Linked DNA regions of Homo sapiens: region 2 is linked to region 1. Evidence: fine-mapped expression QTL. A gene starts in region 1. The other region holds a variant in brackets. All regions are shown on one strand. Distances are from middle to middle.

What was found.
Region 2: its variant is fine-mapped to the expression of DCST2 in tibial nerve (GTEx, PIP 0.90).

The regions. Positions count from the first base shown.
Region 1 is chr1:155,031,721-155,036,230 of GRCh38, reverse strand. DCST2 (DC-STAMP domain containing 2) reads left to right here and starts at 2,450. Exons shown (of 15, transcript NM_144622.3): 1 at 2,450-2,797; 2 at 2,967-3,137; 3 at 3,463-3,564; 4 at 4,460-4,510. The coding sequence starts at 2,530. It overlaps DCST1 (DC-STAMP domain containing 1), which reads right to left and starts at 2,407. Exons shown (of 17, transcript NM_152494.4): 1 at 2,377-2,407; 2 at 2,134-2,259; 3 at 1,671-1,796; 4 at 1,504-1,578. The coding sequence starts at 2,194.
Region 2 is chr1:155,056,950-155,060,949 of GRCh38, reverse strand. It overlaps ADAM15 (ADAM metallopeptidase domain 15), which reads right to left. Exons shown (of 23, transcript NM_207197.3): 11 at 3,849-3,997; 12 at 3,588-3,762; 13 at 3,221-3,313; 14 at 2,795-3,099; 15 at 2,509-2,704; 16 at 2,163-2,240; 17 at 976-1,048; 18 at 607-745; 19 at 118-187. All of the region lies in intron 1 of DCST1-AS1 (DCST1 antisense RNA 1), which reads left to right. It overlaps ADAM15-EFNA4 (ADAM15-EFNA4 readthrough), which reads right to left. Exons shown (of 26, transcript NR_176418.1): 11 at 3,849-3,997; 12 at 3,588-3,762; 13 at 3,221-3,313; 14 at 2,795-3,099; 15 at 2,509-2,704; 16 at 2,163-2,240; 17 at 976-1,048; 18 at 607-745; 19 at 118-187. Among named protein-coding and RNA genes, the nearest start is that of EFNA4, 4.8 kb to the left of the region's middle. RefSeq lists an enhancer at 3,403-4,000. The variant G/A (reference allele first, on the strand shown) is at 2,050.

The sequences.
Region 1 (4,510 bases):
TGAAATGCTAATTCTATTTCCCTTGCCTGGGACAGGTTCAGGAAAGGGCATGTGTTGCACGCAGTTCTGACCAAAGAGATGTGAGGAAGTCTACTGTGGGGATTATAGGCAAGTTTCCCTTGTTCCTAAAAAGAGACATGAGGAAAGGATGTTTCTTCCTTTTTTTTTTTTTTTTTTTTTTTTGAGACAGAGTTTCACTCTGTCACCTAGGTCATTTTCCTTTTTCCCTGGCCTCAAATCGCACAGCCCAAGACAGTGAAGTTGGGCCTGGGATTGAACTTCTATTCTTTTCTTTTTTTTGAGATGGCCTTTCGCTCTTGTCACCCAGGCTGGAGTGCAGTGGCACGATCTCCACTCACTGCAATCTCTGCCTCCTGGGTTCAAGCAAGCCTCCTGCCTCAGCCTCCCAAGAAGCTGGGACTACAGGTGTGCACCACCACATCCGGCTAATTTTTGTATTTTTAGTGGAGACAGGGTTTCACCATGTTGGCCAGGCTGGTCTCAAACTCCTGACCTCAGGTGATCCACCCGCCTCAGCCTCCCAAAGTGCTGGGATTACAGGCGTGAGCCATTGTGCCTGGCCTGTTTCTTCCTCTTTTTTTATTTTTTTCTGATCTTTGATATTATTGTATGAAGATGTGATGCCAGAGTTGCTGCAGCTATCTTGTGACCTGAAGAGAAGTGGTCAATAGACTGAAGATGGCAGAGAAAAGACAGAAGGAACCTGAGTCCTTCTCGAAGCTACTGAGCTGTTAAATTATCCAAACTGGGCTGGGCACGGTGGCTTACACCTGTAATCCCAGAACTTTGGGAGGCCGAGGCAGGTAGATCTTTTGAGGTCAGAAGTTCGAGACCTGCCTGGCCAACATACAGAAACCCCGTCTCTACTAAAAATACAAAAATTAGCTGGGCATGGTGATGGGTGCCTGTAATCCCAGCTACTTGGGAGGCTGAGCAGGAGAATGGCTTGAACCTGGGAGGTGGAGGTTGCAGTGAGCTGAGATTGAGCCACTGCACTCCAGCCTGGGCAACAGAGCGAGACTCCGTCTCAAAACGAAAACAAAAACATACAAACAAAACCAAAGCAAAACGGCTGGATGCTTGTCATCCTTGTTTACTGCTAAATCCTCAGCAGATTCTCAGTAAGTGCTGAGTGAATGAATGAATGAATGAATGAATTTAATTTCTTAGGAGGATCAGAAAACGAGGTCAGACAGGTCAGGAGAGATGAGAGTTATGAAGGGTTATGGGGTTGGACTATATCATGTGGGTGATGGGGAGTCCCTCGGAATGGAGAGACTCCCTCAGGGCAAGGACGGTGTCTTCCTTCTTAAATTGGCAGCCTCTTCCCTCTGGACCTCCCCGTAAAGCCCAGGAGGAGGCGGAAGCCACAGGGGATGTATGGGTACAGAAGAAACAAGTCCCGACTCCTTCCTGGGCATGCAGGACGGCGCTGTGTTCCACAGGCCGCTTGAGTGTTCCTGGCTTTTGCCCAGCACTAACCCACCAAGCTGTACAAGAACATAATCTTCTGTTCTTCGTAGATGTTCATGGGGTTCACCAGGAGCTGAAAGAGACCTAAGGGCACAAGGTCAAGCCAAAGGCCAAAAGATGGGTCCTAGCCCTGGTCCAGCCTCTGCCCACCCCGAACTTTCTGCTTCCACACTCACCTATGGCCAGGAGCCCCCCAGCGCCTGCCCCCAGCAGGAGAGCAGTGACAGGAAACTCGCCCGGCTGGCGCCACAGGAACCAGCTACAGGAGACTGGCAGCCCCCAGGTCAGGAGCCTCTGCACCGCTAAGAGGGGGACAGGGTAGCTCAACAGCCCACTCTTCTGCCTGGGATGGGGCTCATTAGGATTCAGGGCTTGCAGGTGGATAGAGGCTGGGGAAACCTGGCATGTGAAACAGTAGGAACTTAGGGGACCCTGGAGGAGGATGAGGGAGCCTGAGGAAGTGGTATGGGTGTAAGGGACAGCAAAGGCAAGGGCTGGGCTGGGAGGCGGGAGGCACTAGACCAGAGAGGTGGTGGAGGCGCGGACACCGAGTTGGGGGATAGTGTGCAGGAGTTCCAGGAGGAGAGATGGGATGAGAGTGGAGGTCAAGGGATACTGGGTCTCTGCTGAGTGACTCACTGGTATGAGGCTGTTTTCTTCTTTGCCCTCTTGTGCCATTCTGATGATGTTTAATGTCCATGAGTCTGTTTTGGGGAAGCACCACTCATCCCAGGTCTCCTGAAGGACCTCCTTGGACACAAGGTTCTGGTGAGAGAAGAGAGGTGCTGCCTGTCTCTTCCGCTTCATGGGAAGCCTAGGCCTGAGCTCTGGGCCTTTTAATCCTTCTGCTCCGAGAAGTGGGGAAGGAGATTAGAGACCTACCTATCCCCTCTCCAGTCCTCGGAACTGGGTCAAGGATTCCAAGACATATGCAGTGAAAGCCCTTTGGAACCTTAGAATACGGTGAGAAATTCCAGGAGCACAGAAGTCAGCGGGCATCTCCTGGAGACAGGCAGACATTTGGTCTCAGCAGCCATGCCCAAAGTCATGAAGGATGTTGTGCACCCCTTGGGGGGAGAGGAGCCTAGCATGGCGAGAGCTGTGGTTCGCAGCGTGGGAGGTTTTACCCTGGGCTTGTCTTTAGCCACGGCCTACGGGCTTCTGGAGCTACTGGTGGAAGGCCACAGCCCCTGGGGTTGCCTGGTGGGCACCCTCACTTTGGCTGCCTTCCTTAGCCTGGGCATGGGATTCTCTCGCCAGGTCCGAGCCACTGTCCTCCTGCTGCTGCCTCAGGCCTTCTCCAGTGAGCTTGGCACCCAGGGCTAGGGGGCAGGTCCTGGGGCTGGTGCTGGGGCAGAAGAGATGCTGGAGGAGAGGCAGGGGTTAAGGGAAATATTCTGAAGGCTTATGTAAGGGACTTGCTGCCATGTTTGGGGCTGGGGTCTTGGTTCTAACAAAGCTGTCGCCCCCAGGGCAGGGCCGGACACTACTGTTGGTGGCTGCTTTTGGGTTGGTGCTTCAAGGGCCTTGTGCCAACACTCTACGCAACTTCACCCGGGCCAGCGAGGCTGTAGCCTGTGGGGCAGAGCTGGCCCTGAACCAGACCGCCGAAGTGCTACAGAGGGCCAAGCAACCTCTTGTCAGTAAGTCCCCCACCTCTACCACTGTCTCCCACGGGCCCCCCTCGCCCCCCTCATCCTGCATGTTCTACAGTCCTTTGGCCTCCTTCTCTGCTGGTGCTAATCGCGGAGCATCTGGGCCTGGAAGGGACTCTGGGCACAGCTAAACCCTCTCTCCTTGCTCTCTGGCCTCCTCCACTCCCAGATTAACGATCTCCCAGGCCCCAGAATCCAGGCTTCCCGCCTCTGGAAATGGTGGCCTCCTCTCTACTCCCTGCTTAAGGGGCAATGGTGAGAACCAGCCCCTAGAGGAGAAGACTCCAAAGTGCCTCTGTCCCTCACCCATCAGGTGCCCTGAACAAGATTAAAGCTATTGCCCGGAAGACCAAAGAGGTGGCTGACCGGGTCCGCAAGTTCTTTCGGTCAATCATGGATGGTGTGAAACACATAGGTAAGCACATTAGCATGTCTATCCCGGGGACTCAAAATGCACCCAGTCCTGGCCGGGTGCGGTGGCTCATGCCTGTAATCCCAGCACTTTGCGAGGCCGAGGTGGGAGAATCACTTGAGCCCAGGAGTTTGAGACCAGCCTTGGCAACATGGCGAGACCCTGTCTCTATAAAAAATAAAAAAATAGAAAATAAATAAAACTAGCCAGATGTAATGACACATGTCTGTAGTCCCAGCTACTGGGGAGGCTATGGTGGAAGGATCTCTTGAACCCAGGGGTTTGAGGCTGCAGTGAGCTATGATCGTGCCACTGTACTCCAATCCAGCCTGGGTGACAGTGTGAGACTCCATCTCTAAAGAAAAAAAAAAGCGGGGGGGCCAGGTGCGGTGGCTCACACCTGTAATCCCAGCACTTTGGGAGGCTGAGGCGGTGGATCAGGAGGTCAGGAGATCAAGACCATCCTGGCTGACATCGTGAAACCCCGTCTCTACTAAAAATACAAAAAGTTAGCCGGGCGTGGTGGCACGCAGCTGTAGTCCCAGCTACTCAGGAGGCTGAGGCAGGAGAATCTCTTGAACCCAGGAGGCGGAGGTTGCAATGAGCCGAGATCACTCCACTGCACTCTAGCCTGGGCAACAAGAGCGAAACTCCATCTCAAAACAAAACAAAACAAAACAAACAAACAGAAACAAAAAAATTCAGTCTCCTCACCTGTACCCTGTCCAGGGTTTTTTGGGCCCCTTCTGGGCGCTGGCTAGTGTTCACTGGACACAGCACAGCCAGGTCCCTGACCACAGGCCTCTCCAGCCCTGGATACTGTGGTATTGTTCCCCAAAACCCTGAGAAGAGGCTGTAGGATTCCAGCCCTGGGTGCCAACCCTGCAGCTGTCCCCAGCCAGGGCTCTCCGGAATGTGTGGCAGTGGCTCCTGCACATCGGCGATGTGT
Region 2 (4,000 bases), 25 kb before region 1:
ACTCTTGGGCAGTGCTAGCCTTTCTCTGAGTCTGGAGCCTTTAATGCGCACCCCCCAGGGCCCAAGCTGGATGCCCGGCCAAGGTGGAGTCCCCTTCCTCTGGCATCCAGGACTCACCTTAGTGCCTCGTGCCAGCAGGGCCCTCTGCGGAGGTCCTGGCCGTTCAGAGGGACCAGATTGGGCTGCCCTATGCATGAGGAAAGGCAAGAAGGGAGAGGGCCCAGCCTCAGACCCTGTTTTCTACCATATGCCATCCCTGAGTGGGGTTAACCCTTTGCAGGCACTTATGTGTGGTTTAGGTAAAATTGTGGTAGGGCCGGGGTGGGGGGCAGTATTTATTAGCTTGAGGGAAGACCCTACTTATCCAGCACAGGGGCTCCTGGGGAGAAATGGCCCTAGCAATCCAGCCACCCCACAGGGGCACAGCTGTGAGGTAAAAAGCTGTGGGCACATATAGGGAAGGGAGGTGTGGGGTATGGCAGTCAGCAACTTTAAGGTCCAAGGGGCCTGGGGCTCAGAACCAGGTGGCAGGGGCTGCAGAGGTGAGGCAGCCTTCAGCACTGTCCCCAGTTGAAGGAAGTGGTAGCAGGGAGGTGATGCTCATACCTGTACTGGCAGGTGGGTCCCTTGAGCTGGCAGAGTCGCTGGTGCAGGCGGGCACGGTACCAGTAGCTGGCACCAAGCATCACCAGGACCAATAAGACCAGGAGGCTGAGGAGCAGCCCTGTGGTCAGGGAGCTGGTTGCTGTGGGCGGAAGTCAGGTTTAAGGGAGGACGGGGCTAAGAACTCTAGATCCATGAAGGCGCAGGGGGCAGGGAGTGAAGTCAAGTGATCAGGGAGAGTGAAGGGTTCAAGGGGCACAGACTCAGGGAACCAGCAGCAAAGGGGGGTCAGAAAGAGAGGGCCGAGGGGGCAAGATAAAGCATGAGACGCTTTGCCCTCCCAGCTGCCCCTGTCCCCCACCCCCATGCTACCTTTGAGCTGAGTGGTGCAGTCAGGGGGTGCCCAGCCCTCCTCACAGTAGCAGTGCCTGTTGCTGTCACAGACCTAGGAGGTACAAGGCGAGCAATGAGGAGCTCTGCACTCTGGAACTATTTCCTTGTCTCTAGCTTTTCAAGATCTCAGATTTCTACAACTGGGGGTTGTGCTGGGTATGTGTGTAGAGACAGCCCGGAGGGAGGGTCTTTATCCATACCAGAGCAAATTAGATCAAACTAACACTTACTGAGCTCCTTCTGTGTGCTGGGCACTGTGGTACATGCTTTCTTTCTTTGTGTTTGTTTTGTTTTGTTTTATTTTATTTTATTTTAGACAGCAAGTAAGATGGAGTCTCACTCTGTTGCCCAGGCTGGAGTGCAGTGGTGCAATTATGGCTCACTGCAGCCCCAAACTCCTGGGCTCAAGCAGTCCTCCTGCCTCAGCCTCCCAAGTAGCTGGGAGCATAGGTGTGCACCAGCAGGCCTGAATAATTTTTAAATTTTTCCTTGAAAGAGATGGGGGTCTCACTATGTTGACCAGGCTGGTTTTGAACTCCTGGCCTCAAGTAATCCTCCTGCCTTGGCCTCCCAAAGTACTGTGATTTGGCTGGGTGCAGTGGCTCACCCCTATAATCCCAGCACTTTGGGAGGCTGAGGCGGGAGGATCACTTGAGGTCAGAAGTTCAAGACTAGCCTGGCCAACATGGTGAAACCCATCTCTACTGAAAATACAAAAATTAGCTGGGCATGGTGGCGGGTGACTGTAATCCCAGCGAGTAGGGAGGCTGAGACATGAGTAATGTTTGAGCCTGGGAGGCAGAGGTTGCAGTGAGCCGAGATCACGCCAGCGCACTCCAGCCTAGGCAACAGAGCGAGACTCTGTCTCAAAACAAAACAAACAAACAAACAAAAAAACTGTGATTATAGGCATGAGCCATTGTGCCCAGCCTGTGCTAGATGCTTTCATACTCATCTCATGTACCCTGGATGGGGATACTATTATTATAGCCATTTGATAGGTGGGGAAACTGAGCTCAGCAAAGTTAGTAACCTGCCCGAGGTCACACAACT[G/A]GGAAGTAGTAGAGCAAGGATTAAAACCCAGATATGTCTATTTCCAAAGCCCAGTATCCTTTTCCTCTCTAGAGGCTCTCTGCTCCCCTTCCACTTCCCCCATCCCAGCTCACCCCATGTCCATGGCATTTGCTTCGACATTCCTGTGCCCCCAGGAGATCCACACGCTGGCATCGATGGTCTATACACACCTGACCCAGGGAGAGAAGAGCCTGGATCAGATTCCCACAAAGCTTTAATGGGACTGGGAGGCCAATAAGGTTGAGGCCATACCCTGCGTTTACAGATGGGGAAACCAAGGCATAGTGAGTTGATAGGACTTTGCTCCATCTGAAGTAAGAAACTGACTTCCCTTGGAGTCCCTGCCTTTGACATTGGTGAATGGTGAAGTCTGGGCTCTGTTCATTGTGGTCCAAATGTCCCTTCTCACACCTGGTCTTGCCCACCCAGGCTGCTCACCAGGCCAGGGCCACAGGCTGTGCCAGGCAGAGTCAGGAGGGGCTGGGCCACATCACTGCCCAGGTCCAGGTGCACCCAGCTGCAGTTCAGCTCAGTCCCATTCACATCTATTGTCTCCCAGAGTAGATCCCGGATGGAGCCCAGCAGAGGCTGGGTCCTACCTGTCTGGCACTGGAGCTGCCCACAAATGGCATCTCTGTGGGGAGGGGGAAGGGCACACAGAGTTAGTAGGAGCAGGGCCAAGGCTCTCAGAAACCCAAAGGAGGAGCCAGGTTTCCTCACTTACCTAGGGGTGCAGGACACATAACTGCCACTGGGGTTGCGCCCACAGCTCCCAAAAGCATTTCCCCGAGTATTAGCTGTCTGGAGGCAAAGTGGCGCAGCGGGCTGGGCTCCAGGTCCCCAAAGTGACTGGCACTGCTGGGCATAGGAGGCACAACGCCCGTGCATGCACACAGCTTGCCCGCCAGCGCAGGGCTCGCCATCCCCTAGGCTGACATCAGGGGGACACTGGGAGCTGTCTCCTGGGCAGAATTCAGGCAAGTCACAATCCCCTCTGGTAGGACGACACTGCCAGCCAGACGGGCGCAGCTGTGGAGGGTGGATGAGCATCAGTGTGGGCACTGAGCAAATCCAGCCGGGGGTCAGAATGACCCTTTCCACCTTGGCCCCGGCAGGTGAGCTCCGGGTGGCCAGTCTAGTCTCTACCCACCTGGCAATTTTGACAACAGGGTCCGTCAGATGCACACTGTGCACCTGGCCTCAGCTGGCAGGTCAAAGAATCACAGCAGGGATCGACGCAGTCCTGTGGGCAGGAGCACGGGGGCCGGGCATCAGAGCAGGTGGGGCCTGTGAGCCTCCCTCCAATCTCTCCTCCTCCCACAGGCCAAGACCAGAAGCTACACAGCAAGCGAGGGCTAGAGCCCAACAACCCATGTGCTGTCCCCACAGACAGGGCAAGTAGGAGAGGGGTGGAAAGTCCCTTCAGAACCCAAGAGCTCAGGAGGCTGGGATAGGGCTAATGAGCCAGGGTGAGGGTACAGAAGTGAGTGGGGCGAGGCTTTGGGAAAGGGGCTCACATCCAGGAAGCCACAGTCACACTGCTCGCCCGGCTCCACAAACATATTTCCGCAGAAAGCAGCCATAGGGGGTAGGCTAGGCAGCCGTTCGAAGAGGCAGCTGCCCATTCCATCCAGGAGGGCTTTCTCCAGGGCCCGTCGGCTGCAGTTGCTGAAGTTCAGGCCTGGTAGGAAGCTGGGGAGGGTGGCAAGGAAGGTTGGGGCTGGGGGCCTCTCCCTGCCCCCTGCCCCACACCCTCTCTCCATCCTGCAGCTACTTACTCTGTGGAGGCCTCCATGATGCAGGTCTTGGCTGGGGCTGGACCTGGACAGGGGCAGCTATTCCCAGGCAAATCATGGTCCAGGCCCAGGCTGTGGCCCAACTCATGGGCTATGGAGGAGGCGACTCCCAGGATGCTGGTGGAGTGGTCCTG